3 linked regions of the Homo sapiens genome follow. The protein of the gene in region 2 purifies or fractionates together with the protein of the main gene of each other region. This does not show direct contact. Each region holds a gene or a part of one and is shown on either strand. Other genes may lie near its edges.

What was found.
Region 1: the proteins of HDAC5 (region 2) and PRKD1 purify together in Homo sapiens (affinity purification with western blotting; 4 studies listed by BioGRID, with this or other methods). This does not show direct contact.
Region 3: the proteins of HDAC5 (region 2) and YWHAE purify together in Homo sapiens (affinity purification with western blotting; 7 studies listed by BioGRID and IntAct, with this or other methods). This does not show direct contact.

What each region holds. Positions count from the first base shown.
Region 1 is NC_000014.9:29,599,237-29,602,985, forward strand, and holds part of PRKD1 (serine/threonine-protein kinase D1), read right to left. Parts: intron 582-3,749; coding exon 420-581; intron 1-419.
Region 2 is NC_000017.11:44,122,169-44,125,917, reverse strand, and holds the start of HDAC5 (histone deacetylase 5), read left to right. Parts: upstream 1-2,276; 5' UTR 2,277-2,414; exon of another isoform or gene 2,415-2,664; intron 2,665-3,749. UniProt on the Homo sapiens protein: Responsible for the deacetylation of lysine residues on the N-terminal part of the core histones (H2A, H2B, H3 and H4).
Region 3 is NC_000017.11:1,393,533-1,397,281, reverse strand, and holds part of YWHAE (14-3-3 protein epsilon), read left to right. Parts: intron 1-3,749. UniProt on the Homo sapiens protein: Adapter protein implicated in the regulation of a large spectrum of both general and specialized signaling pathways. Binds to a large number of partners, usually by recognition of a phosphoserine or phosphothreonine motif.

The sequences.
Region 1 (3,749 bases), on a different chromosome or scaffold from region 2:
GTTAAAGACACTGAAATGAGCTAGATTAACATAGGTTTCTAAAGAAATTTCAATGAAAAAATTACCATATGATGGTATTCATACAGCGGCCAAGACAGATGTAGATAAAAGACCTATATCTAACAGGGACACCCATTCTTAAATATTCTCAAAGAACCAAAACTAAACCAATGTACATTTTAAAATTTCATGAAAAGTTTGAATACATGGACCTGCAAACATGTTACTAATTTGGTACACTGTGGACTCTGATTAATATAGATATAAATCACATAATACAATAAAGCCACTACAACCTTTTCTAGTGTAGTTTAGACTGGAGGTAGGGACTAAACAACAAGGCTAGAAAGCTGTAGTTAAACAGTGATAACATTTGATATTAAATATTGTATTTTTTCCGTCTCTAATTGATTTCTTACCTGAGTAATTAAAAACTTCGTTATGTGCTCTGGCAACCTGCCCTTTTCACTTGACAAGATCATTTCCAGCATGTCTCCATGGAGTTTTTCCATAACAACAAACACTCTTTCAGGCGTCTCAAACATACACTCCAAATTTACAACACCAGGGTGATGAAGGTTCTATTAAAGATAAATAAAGCACTTGAAGAAAATGAGTTTTTTGATACTGTTTGGCAAGCTCGCTGATTATACAAAACTGTTCAAGCTTAGAGCTATAGAGAAACCCACACTTAAGATTTTTAACACCTCTACATTCCACATGTGCTGCCTTATATTTTTGAAATTCTAATGTCTCCAAAAAATACATCTTTACTTTCTATGCGTAGTGAAATTATTTCTATGTGAAAAAAATCCAAGTTCTAGCACAGTGAATTGCTAATTAGGTTTTAATTAGAATACCATATTGAGAAATCTATAATTTCTTAGGATCATCCCCAATATTAAACATATTGTCCTAACTAAGCATACTAGGCTATTTATATACAATTGGTAGAAATCTAATGTAGTAAAGATGAAATTCATACATGTAGTGCATCGGGCCATGCACTGATTAAGTACCTTAGTCAAAACCTTTTAGAAATGCTTTGCTACTGGTACTGGAGGCTGCAGTTTTTGACAGAAACTCTTATACTAAGTGAAGATCATAAAAATAGCAACAAAAAAAAAGTGAGCCTGTGCTTTGTCTACAATACCATCCTACCTGCTTGGTTTTCAAGCACGCAATAAATATAGCTAATCCTTGAGAAACACAAATTTGAACTGTGTGGGTCCACTTACATGTGGATATTTTTCGATAAGTACAGTTGGCCCTTGGTATCTGTGGGTTCTGCATCCACAACCAAGTGAGTATTGAAAATACCGTGTTCACCGGATCCAAAAACCTGAGGATGAGGAGGACCAACTTTTCCTAGAGGGAAGTTCTGCAGAGCCAAATGTGGGATGTAAGTATGCGTGGATTTTGATATGTGGTGCGGTGGTTCTGGAACAAATCCCATGCGGATACCAAGGGACTGCTGTCTTTCCACAATAAAGTAATGACTAGTAATGGTAAGCAGCATTTTGCTTGACACATTAATTGCCACATGTCAAGTAAAATTACGCTTAGCATTAGACGATCTCTTGTAATAATGCTTAAATCTGAACGTTCTTCTGGGTCATCAACAAATGCCTTTGATCATTTGACCTTTACCTTTTTTCTCTGCACAACAACAAATCCTAACATTAAAAAAAAATTATATATTCCACTTATATCCCAATGAGCAAGAGAAGAAAAATCATCATGAACAAAAACCACCTAAACAAAAAAAGCAGGAACTAACTTAAATGTGCTAACAGCTGAAGAGAGAAAAAAATTAAATGCTTCTTTATTTTAGAAAAAAAAATCTCAGTGATAAAATTGTACGTAAAATGAAATTTAAAACCTCAAATGGCTCACTGCTCAGAAACCTCACAGATGGATGCTGGGTGGTGAGCAGCAGAAGGGGTTGTGGGTGAGTCTACATTGTTGTAGTTGTCCTCTCACTACCCATTTGCAAGGAAAGCCTGGCATCAACTGGATATAGAACCAGGAGCTCTGATGATGATAACTCATTTCTTAGAGAGTCCTTTTTCTACTTTGCCTGTTTTGATCTCTGCCTCAGGCATCTGATGGGTCTCTTTGATTCTGATGCCTTGGGTCAAATCATACAGCATAATGGAGTCATGGAATTGCAAGTTTATTATGAATGTGATCTGAGCAGACGCCTACACATCTACCCAATAGCCTTTAACCTCTAAAGGGCTAGAGTCATTGTTCTTCAAACCGTTGCACTGTTAACTGGTCAAGTCTGGCAACTTCGAATAGACCTCACCTCCCACGTTGCTCTCTCCTGGTCAGAGCTGAAGCACATGGAGATAGTTGGGGTTCACAAAGCTCATATTATCAACCCTCTTACTTTACTTTTCCTGATTACTTGCAAATAAGAGCAGATAGCCAGATGGCTTTGAGTATTATGGGAGGGCCAGAGGCTAAGGAGGCGACTAATATGACGACATACACTTGTTTGATAGGCACTATGGAACATGTGATAGTATTGTTCATACTTGAACTTGTGTCCCAGGCTGTCTCATTTCCTTTTCCTTACATGCCTTTCCCTGTTAGAGAAGCCAGACTGACTGCACAGACCACTGGCCTCTGAAGTGTCAAAGGTCTCAGCTGTTCTCTTTTAATCAATAATCACAGCACGAGCTTTAAGGATTACATGAGTTCGGCTAGAGTTCTGATTCTCCTAGGACAAGTCCACTATGATATGTGCAAAGTACACGTTCCTCTTTGAGCATCTTCATTGATTCTTTTATTTTTCTATTTAATATAACTGTAAGCACTTAAGCAGTGTTCTGGGGAGTCTGGCTTCCTTAAATGGCTAAGCTTTGCAGTACGGGTGGGAAGCAGAAGCAATGAATCAGAAAGGAGCAGAGCAACAGAAGTAGACAGGAAGGGTAGGTGTCCTCTGTGTGTAGGCAGACGAAAAACTAGTAGGAACAAGAGATAAGCGTTAAGGGAGAGTGACCTCGGGGGCCCAGGGAGGGCAGGGGTCACGGGAGTAGTATTGGAGCTGCACAGCCTGCTGCTTCTGCTGATCTTAGATTCTGAAAGTTGGAGAAGAGGGGAGAGACGCAATGACTGGGGAGTCCTCCTACCTAAATTATCTGAATGATATGAATCCTTATGTGCCTCTACCTGTATTCCTCTTTTTTTTTTTTTTTTTGTTTTGACGGAGTTTCACTCTTATTGCCCAGGTTGGAGTGCAATGGCAAATCTCGGCTCACCACAACCTCTGCCTCCCAGGTCCAAGCGATTCTCCTGCCTCAGCCTCCCGGGTAGCTGGGATTACAGGCATGCACCACCATGCCTGGCTAATTTTGTATGTTTTGTAGAGATGGGGTTTCTCCATGTTGGTCAGGATGGTGTCTAACTCCTGACTTGAAGTGATCCGCCCACCTTGGCCTCCCAAAGTGCTGGGATTACAGGCATGAGCCACTGCACCTGGCCAGTACATGAGTTCTTAGAGGTACTAAAGTCCTTCACTCAATTTATTCCTTTTTCCTACTCCACAACATGACCTGAGGTGCCCCTGTACAGAGGGTAGAACTTTAATACATGTTTATTTCCAGAATTGGGGTATTCACAGAATGTTCTAAATCAAAAGTAAGTGACAGATTAATGACAGTGTTCATTGTCAACTATTTTGTGCCATGTTCACCGTCAGCTCTGAAGAGCTCTACAAATGTTCTCTAATAGCATCTTGA
Region 2 (3,749 bases):
CCTATTTTTATTTTTTTTTTTGAGACGGAATCTCGCTCTGTCACCCGCCCAGGCTGGAGTGCAATAGCCCGATCTCGGCTCGCTGCAACCTCCGCCTCTCGGTTTCAAGTGATTGTTTCGTCTCAGCCTCCTGAGAAGCTGGGATTACAGAAGTGCACCACCACGCCCGCCTAATTTTTGAATTTTTAGTAAAGACGGGGTTTCACCATTTTGGTCAGGCTCGTCTCGAACTCCAGACCTCGTGATCCGCCCGCCTCGGCCTCCCAAAGTGCTGGGATTACAGGCATGAGCCACTGCGCCCGGCTATTTTTTTATTTTTTTTGAGACGGAGTCTCACACTGTTGCCCAGGCTGGAGTGCAGTGGCGTGATCTCGGCTCACTGCAACCTCTGCCTCCAGGGTTCACGCCATTCTCCTGCCTCAGCCTCCCGAGTAGCTGGGACTACAGGCGCCCGCCACTACACCCGGCTAATTTTTTTTTGTATTTTTAGTAGAGAGGGTTTCGCCGTGTTAGCCTGGATGGTCTCGATCTCCTGACCTTGTGATCAGCCCGCCTCGCCCTCCCAAAGTGCTGGGATTACAGGCGTGAGCCACCGCGCCTGGCCTCTTCTTCTTCTTTTGTTTTTGTTTTTTGTTTTTTTGAGACGGAGTCTCGCTTTGTTCCCCAAGCTGGAGTGCAGTGGCGCGATCTCTGCTCACTGCAACCTCCGCCTCCCGGGTTCACTCCATTCTCCTGCCTCAGCCTCCCAAGTAGCTGGGACTACAGGCGCCCACCACCACGCCCGGCTAATTTTTTGTATTTTTAGTAGAGACGGGTTTCACTGTGTTAGCCAGGGTGGTCTCGACATCCTGACCTCGTGATCCACCAGCCTCGACCTCCCAAAGTGCTGGGATTACGGGCGTGAGCCACCATGCCCGGCCCACGCCCGGCCTCTTTTTTAAAATACAGACAGTGTCTCGCCATGTTACCCAGGCTGGTCTTGAACTGGGCTCAAGCAATCCTCCCGCCTCGGCCTCCAAAGTGCTAGGATTGATGACAGGCAAGAGCCAATGCACCTGGCCCCTTTAAAACTTTTTTTTTTGAGGCAGAGTTTCACTCTTGTTGCCCAGGCTGGAGTGCAATGGCACGATCTTGGCTCACTGCAACCTCCGCCTCTCAGGTTCAAGGGATTCTACTGCCTCAGCCTCCTGAGTAGGTGGGATTACAGGCGCCTGCCACCACGCCCGGCTAATTTTTTTGTATTTTTAGTAGAGACGGGGTTTTACCATAATGGCCAGGCTGGTCTCAAACTCTTGACCTCAGGTTATCCGCCTGCCTCCGCCTCCCAAAGTGCGGGGATTACAGGCGTGAGCCACCATGCCCGGTCCCCTATAAAACTTTTAATGTCTGGATAATATTTTACTGAATGAATGTCTCCTGCTTTGCTTGCCAATTCCCTATCGATGGATATTTAGGTTGTTTTCAACTTTTCACATCATTACAAACAATCTCATGTTCATTTTTTAACATAACAACGTTTATTTATTTGGAATACATTTTTGTTAGTGGAATTGCTGGGTCATTGACAAATTGTCTAGGTCTAATTAAACATGTTCATACTGTGTACCAAGAGGAGATGTAGCGTGGATGGCACCAAAGTCAGGGAAGTCTTTCCGGCTCCTGGTCTGCTGGTCTGCCCTTTTGAAGGCCTTGGAGTGTTACAGCCATACCCTGGCCTTTCCCAGGCTTTTCTTTCCCTGGCACGGATGCAGTGTGTGCGGTCAGAGCTGGCGAGTTCGAGACTTGTCCGAACCATCCACCCGCAGCCAGGCCCCGCTGCAGAGGCTGCGGTGGCCCTCCCAGCCCCTGGGAATCTATCCCCAGGTCCCCTCCCCGACCGCGGGAGGGCGTGTTAGGGGAGCAGCTTAGGCAAGCGACGATTGCACCATCCACGTTTTGAAAAGAAAGTCCGGGGAGCGCAAGGAGGAAACTTTTACAATCCAAAGGTTGAGCCCCAGCATCCATACTCGGCCCCTGCAGCGATCCTTCCACTCCTGCTCGCTGGGTTCCGATCCCTTCCCTTCCACCCCGTCTCGGCCGAACCCTGTGCTGGGCACTGGCCCTTTAAGGAGCTGTCACGATGGCGTCGCTGGCCCCGCCCGGCGGGGAGGGCCGAGAGGCAGGGGAGGGGTTGGTGGTGGCTGCGGGCAAGGGGAAGGCGGGGGGGGCTGGGGGGGGGGTCTGGGTCTATTTTTAGCTCCGGGTCGGGTCACGTGACGGGAGTGACGTCTCCGAATGTTGTTGTTGGTGGCGGCGGCGAGCGGAGCCGGAGGAGCCGCCGCAAAGATGGAGGAGCCGTCGAGGAGGTGCTGCCGCCGCTGCCGCCGCCGCTGCTGCCGCCGCCGCCCGCGAAGCCGGAGCTCGAGCCGCAGCGGGTGAGCGCGCCGCCCCGGCCCAGATCCCATCTTCCCCGGACCCCGGGACGCGAGGCGGCGCCCCCTCCTCCTGCTGTCTCTGTCCGCGGGCTCCCAGCGCGCGCGCCGCGCTCCGCGCCCCCCTTCCTTCCTCCCGGCCCTGGGAGCCAGCCGGCGCCCCCCGGGAGCATCGGCAGCCCGTGAGCGGGACATCGGGGTTGCTGCGCGCGCCCCTCCCTGCCCCTCCCAGACAGGGGCGCCTTCCCTACAGGTAAGGGAGGGGCCCGCCTTCTCGCGCCCTGCGCCCCCAAATGGCTCGGAGACCGGCCGGGGTTGTCTGATTTGCCCCTTCCCTGGCGGCGCATGTTGCGTTGCAGAGCCATTTGAGCCCTGCACCCGGATTCTGTGCAGACCCCTCTTCGCTGGACACCCCTTTCTTGGTACTCTGAGGTGAGGGGTGCTGTCCACCCAGAGCGCTTCTCCCCATAGCTACGAACGCATCCTTGATTTTATGTCCTTGACTTCCGTGCATGAGGAGGGGGACTGCGGAGTCCACCTTACTTCTCTCTCCCATTATTCTCACCCCGTCTCCTGTGAGGCGTTACTGCGTTTGTTGCCACCCTCTTCTCCTGTCTGACACCTTGGAGCCAGGATGCGAGAGCTAGGAGATGAAATGGAGCTCCCCCCCAACCCCTTCTTGTCTTGGGTGGATGCCCCCCATTTTTCATCCTGGATCTGTATCTCATGGAAGCGGGGGCACTACCAGTGCCTTATTAACTTGGGGGGAGTCAGCTTCTCCACCCCACCCTTCCCTGGGGCCCTGGGGAAGATGAGAACTGGCTGGGTGTAAGTAATTAATCTGGGAGCTTGGTGGGGGCTGTTGAAGTGGGGAGGTTGGGTGCTTCCTTTGGGAGAGGAGATGACCACTTGATACCCCTGGCTGATACCCCTTCTGAAATGAGGTGTGTCCCTAAAGAGGAAAGGTAACAGCTGCAGTTGCTTTTAGGAGGGTGCAAAAGGGACCCATCACTCAGTCAGTGACCACCATGCTTTTGGGATCTGGGATTAGATTTGGAGCTTGGGGAGGTGGTGGTGATTGGTTTCAGTGTCCAACTGGGAGGGGAGGATGGAGCCAGATTATGGGAACAAAAGGAGGTGGGGGGGAGGGTGAGATCCAGGAGTCTTGGTCAGAGGGACCCCTAGCCAGATTGCCTTGCAGGATTGCAGTCTGGGTCTGGGTCCTGCCTTTGGCTTCCTCTTAGTTTCAGAGGATGTAGGCAGGCAGGCATGGTCTTCAGTCTCCCCAGTCCTAGGCACCCTGAGCCTATGCTGGCTGTTGAGATGCTGGGCTGGGCT
Region 3 (3,749 bases), about 43 Mb from region 2:
AAGCAAGTCCATTATTTCTTAGCATTTCTCAAACAGCTCTTACTGTCCCGTATATGAAATAGTACAAGAAAGTGGGGAAGAAAGGCCGGGCGGGGTGGCTCACGCCTGTAATCCCAGCACCTTGGGAGGTCGAGGCGGGTGGATCACCTGAGGTCGGGAGTTCAAGACCAGCCTGGCCAACATGGTGAAACCCTGTCTCTACAAAAATAAAAAAATTATCCGGGCATAGCTACTGAGGAGGTTGAGGTGGAAGAATCACTTGAACCCGGGAGGTGAAGGTTGTAGTGAACCAGGATTATGGCATTACACTACAGCCTGGGCAACAGAGCGAGACTCTTGTCTCCAAAAAAAAAAAAAAGAGGCCAGGTGCGGTGGCTCATGCCTGTAATCCCAGTACTTTGGGAGGCCAAGGCGGGTGGATCACCTGAAGTCAGAAGTTCGAGACCAGCCTGACCAACATGGAGAAACCCCGTCTGTAGTAAAAATACAAAATTAGCCGGGGGTGGTGGGTGCCTGTAATCCCAGCTACTTGGGAGGCGGAGGCAGGAGAATCACTTGAACCCGGGAGGCCGAGGTTGCGGTGAGCCGAGATTGCGCCATTGCACTCCATCCTGGGCAACAGCAACAATAAAAAACGGGGAATATAGAGGGGAAAAGTTTACCCGTTTTTGGGGAGCAGAGGGGTAACATAAACTACATTTGGGCTTGTGGGGCTGTTGTTGGTTTTGTCCTTTCCTAGTCTCTTCCCTATCAAGATTGGCTTCATGGAAGGTAGGATGAAGTTTTGATGGTCATGTTGGATTCCCTAGGAATGCATCTGTTGAGTCATTTACTTGAGAGCTGTCTTTTTTTTCTTTTGAGACGGAGTCTCGCTCTGTCTCCCAGGCTTTATTGAAGTGGCACAATCTCGGCCCACTGCAACCTCCGCCTCCAGGGTTCAAGCGATTCTCCTGCCTCACCCTCCCGAGTAGCTGGGACTACAGGCATGTGCCACCATGCCATGCTAATTTTGTATTTCTTTTTTAGTAGAGACACGGTTTCTCCATGTTGGTCAGGCTGGTCTCGAACTCCCGACCTCAGGTGATCCGCCCACCTCAGTCTCCCAAAGTGCTGACATTAAGGACCTGAGCCACCGCGCCTGGTCAAGAGCTGTCTTTTTTTTGAGACGGAGTCTTGCTCTTGTCGCCCAGGCTGTAGTGCAATAGCGCGATCTCGGCTCACTGCAACCTCCATCCCCTGGGTTCAAGCGATTCTCCTGCCTCAGCCTCCAAGAGTAGCTGGGATTACAGGCATCCGCCACTATGCCAGGCTAATTTTGTATTTTTAGTAGAGATGGGGTTTCGCCATGTTGGCCAGGCTGATCTCGAACTCCTGACCTCAGGTGATCCGCCCGCCTCGGCCTCCCAGAGTGCTGGGGTTACAGGCGTGAGCCACTGAGCCCGCTGAGAGCTGTCCTTTTAAAACACCAGATCCTCATCTCTAGCTAGCTTATTCTGCTAGTTAGTGAAGAACAGGGAAGGGAGCATGTGTGGAATGAACTTTTTACTACGGTCTTGTTAGGAAAAAAATAGGTAGTAGTAAATTAACGTTGTTAATAAGTTTAGAAGTATTTAGATTAACTACCAGTTCTTTGACTGTAGGCCAGTAATTTTCCATTGCCGTTTCAGTTAATGGACTAACTTTCTGGAGTAAAGTTTATTTTTCTCCTTCTTAAATGCATAGACAGAACTGAGTAACGTAGTGTTAAAAATCCCTTCTACGACTGGGCTCTGTCCCCCAGGCTGGAGTGCAATGGCGTGGTCTTGGCTCACTGCAACCTCCGCCTCCCAGGTTCAAGCGGTTCTCCTGGCTCAGCCTCCCAAGTAGCTGGGACTACAGGCGCGTGCCACCACACTCGGCTAATTTTTTGTATTTTTAGTAGAGACGAGGTTTCACCATGTTGGCCAGGATGGTCTTTATCTCCTGATCTCAGGTGATCTGCCCACCTCAGCCTCCCAAACTGCTGGGATTACAGGTGTGAGCCACCGCACCCAGCCAATTTTTGTGTTTTTGGTAGAGACAGGGTTTTACCATGTTTGCCAGGCTGGTCTTGAACTCCTGACCTCAGGTGATCTGCCTGCCTCGGCCTCCCAAAGTGTTGGAATTACAGGCGTGAGCCACCACACCCGGCCTGATTGTTTTTTTTTTTCATGGATGACTGTAAGGGTGACTGATACTGCAGGCATATTTTTTCTTTATATTTCAAGAACACTGTGTACACAAACAGTAATGACAAGCATGGAGTAAAGGCTGCAGTTTTATTTTTATTTATTTTTTTGAGACAGTCTTGCTCTGTCACCTAGGGTGGAGTGTAGTGGTAGGATCTCGGCTCACTGCAGCCTCTGCCCCCTGGGTTCAAGCGATTCTCCTGCCTCTGCTTCCCGAGTAGCTGGGACTACAGGCGCCCGCCATCGCACCTGGCTAATTTTTGTATTTTTAGTAGAGATGGGGTTTCACCATGTTTGCCAGGCTGATCTCTGACTCCTGACCTCAGGTGATCCTCCCGCCTCAGCCTCCCAAAGGGCTAGCATTACAGGTATGAGCCACTGTACCTGGCCTAAATTTTTAATTTTTTAATGGGCACATATTAGGTGTATGTATTTATGGGAAGGCTAAATTAAAAAAAAATTTTTTTTTGAAACAGGGTCTTGCTTTGTGACCCAGGCTGAAGTGCAGTGTCGCCATTATAGCTTACTGCAGGCTCGACCTCCTGAGTTCCAGTGACCCTCCTGCCTCAGCTTCCCTAGTAGCTGGGACTGTTGCACCGGCCTAATTTTTGTGTTTTTTTTTTTTTTTTTTTTTTTTTGTGGATTTGAGGTCTCTATGTTGCCCAGGCTGGTCTTGAATTCCTGGACTCCCACCTTGGCCTCCCAAAGTGCTGGGATTACAGGTGTGAGTCACTGCTTCTGGCCTAAACTTTACATATGTGTATATGACATTATGCAGTACCTCAGTTCACAGCCCACGTTGACAAAAGTTTTTAATTTATGTAACAAGATTGAAGCAGGTAGAGCGTTACTCCCATTTTCTGGTTCAAGAAAGTGAGTTTGAGAGAGAGATTTTTTTATGATCATGTGGCTAATCAGTTATTAAATGGTAAAGCCAGAACTTAGTGTCTGCTGACCTTTAGATCGGTACACTTACTCTCAGCCACTCAAAAGACCTCTGTGAAGTAAGGTGGTGCCTTTCAGGGGAGTAGGGGGTGAGTAGCGTATGCTTGATGCTTGTTCTTTAACAATTCTAATAGCATCTACTTCACATCTTGATGTTTGTGATGACTGATATCCATGGTGAATTGTAGACAAAATCTTTTCACTTTCCTAAAGAAACCTGATGGTTTTTTTCAGAGATAAAATCCCATCTCAAGGCACAGCGAAATTAAAATGAGGTGAAGTTTAGGTACTCTCAGAATGTTTATTCGCATACAGATTCTTAAAAAACATGATTTATTGTAGGCAGATGTCACCTCTTTAAGCAAAAGAAAAAAACAACCAAAAAAAGAAAAGCCCCAGCCGGGTTCCGCGGCTCAAACACCTGCAATCCCAGCACTGTGGGAGGCCGAGGTGGGCGGATCACCTGAGGTCAGGAGTTTGAGACCATCCTGACCAACATGGTGAAAACCAGTCTCTACTAAAAATACAAAAATTAGCTGGCCTGTGATGGCTTGTGCCTTTAGTCCCAGCTACTGAGGAGGCTGAGGTGGGAAATCG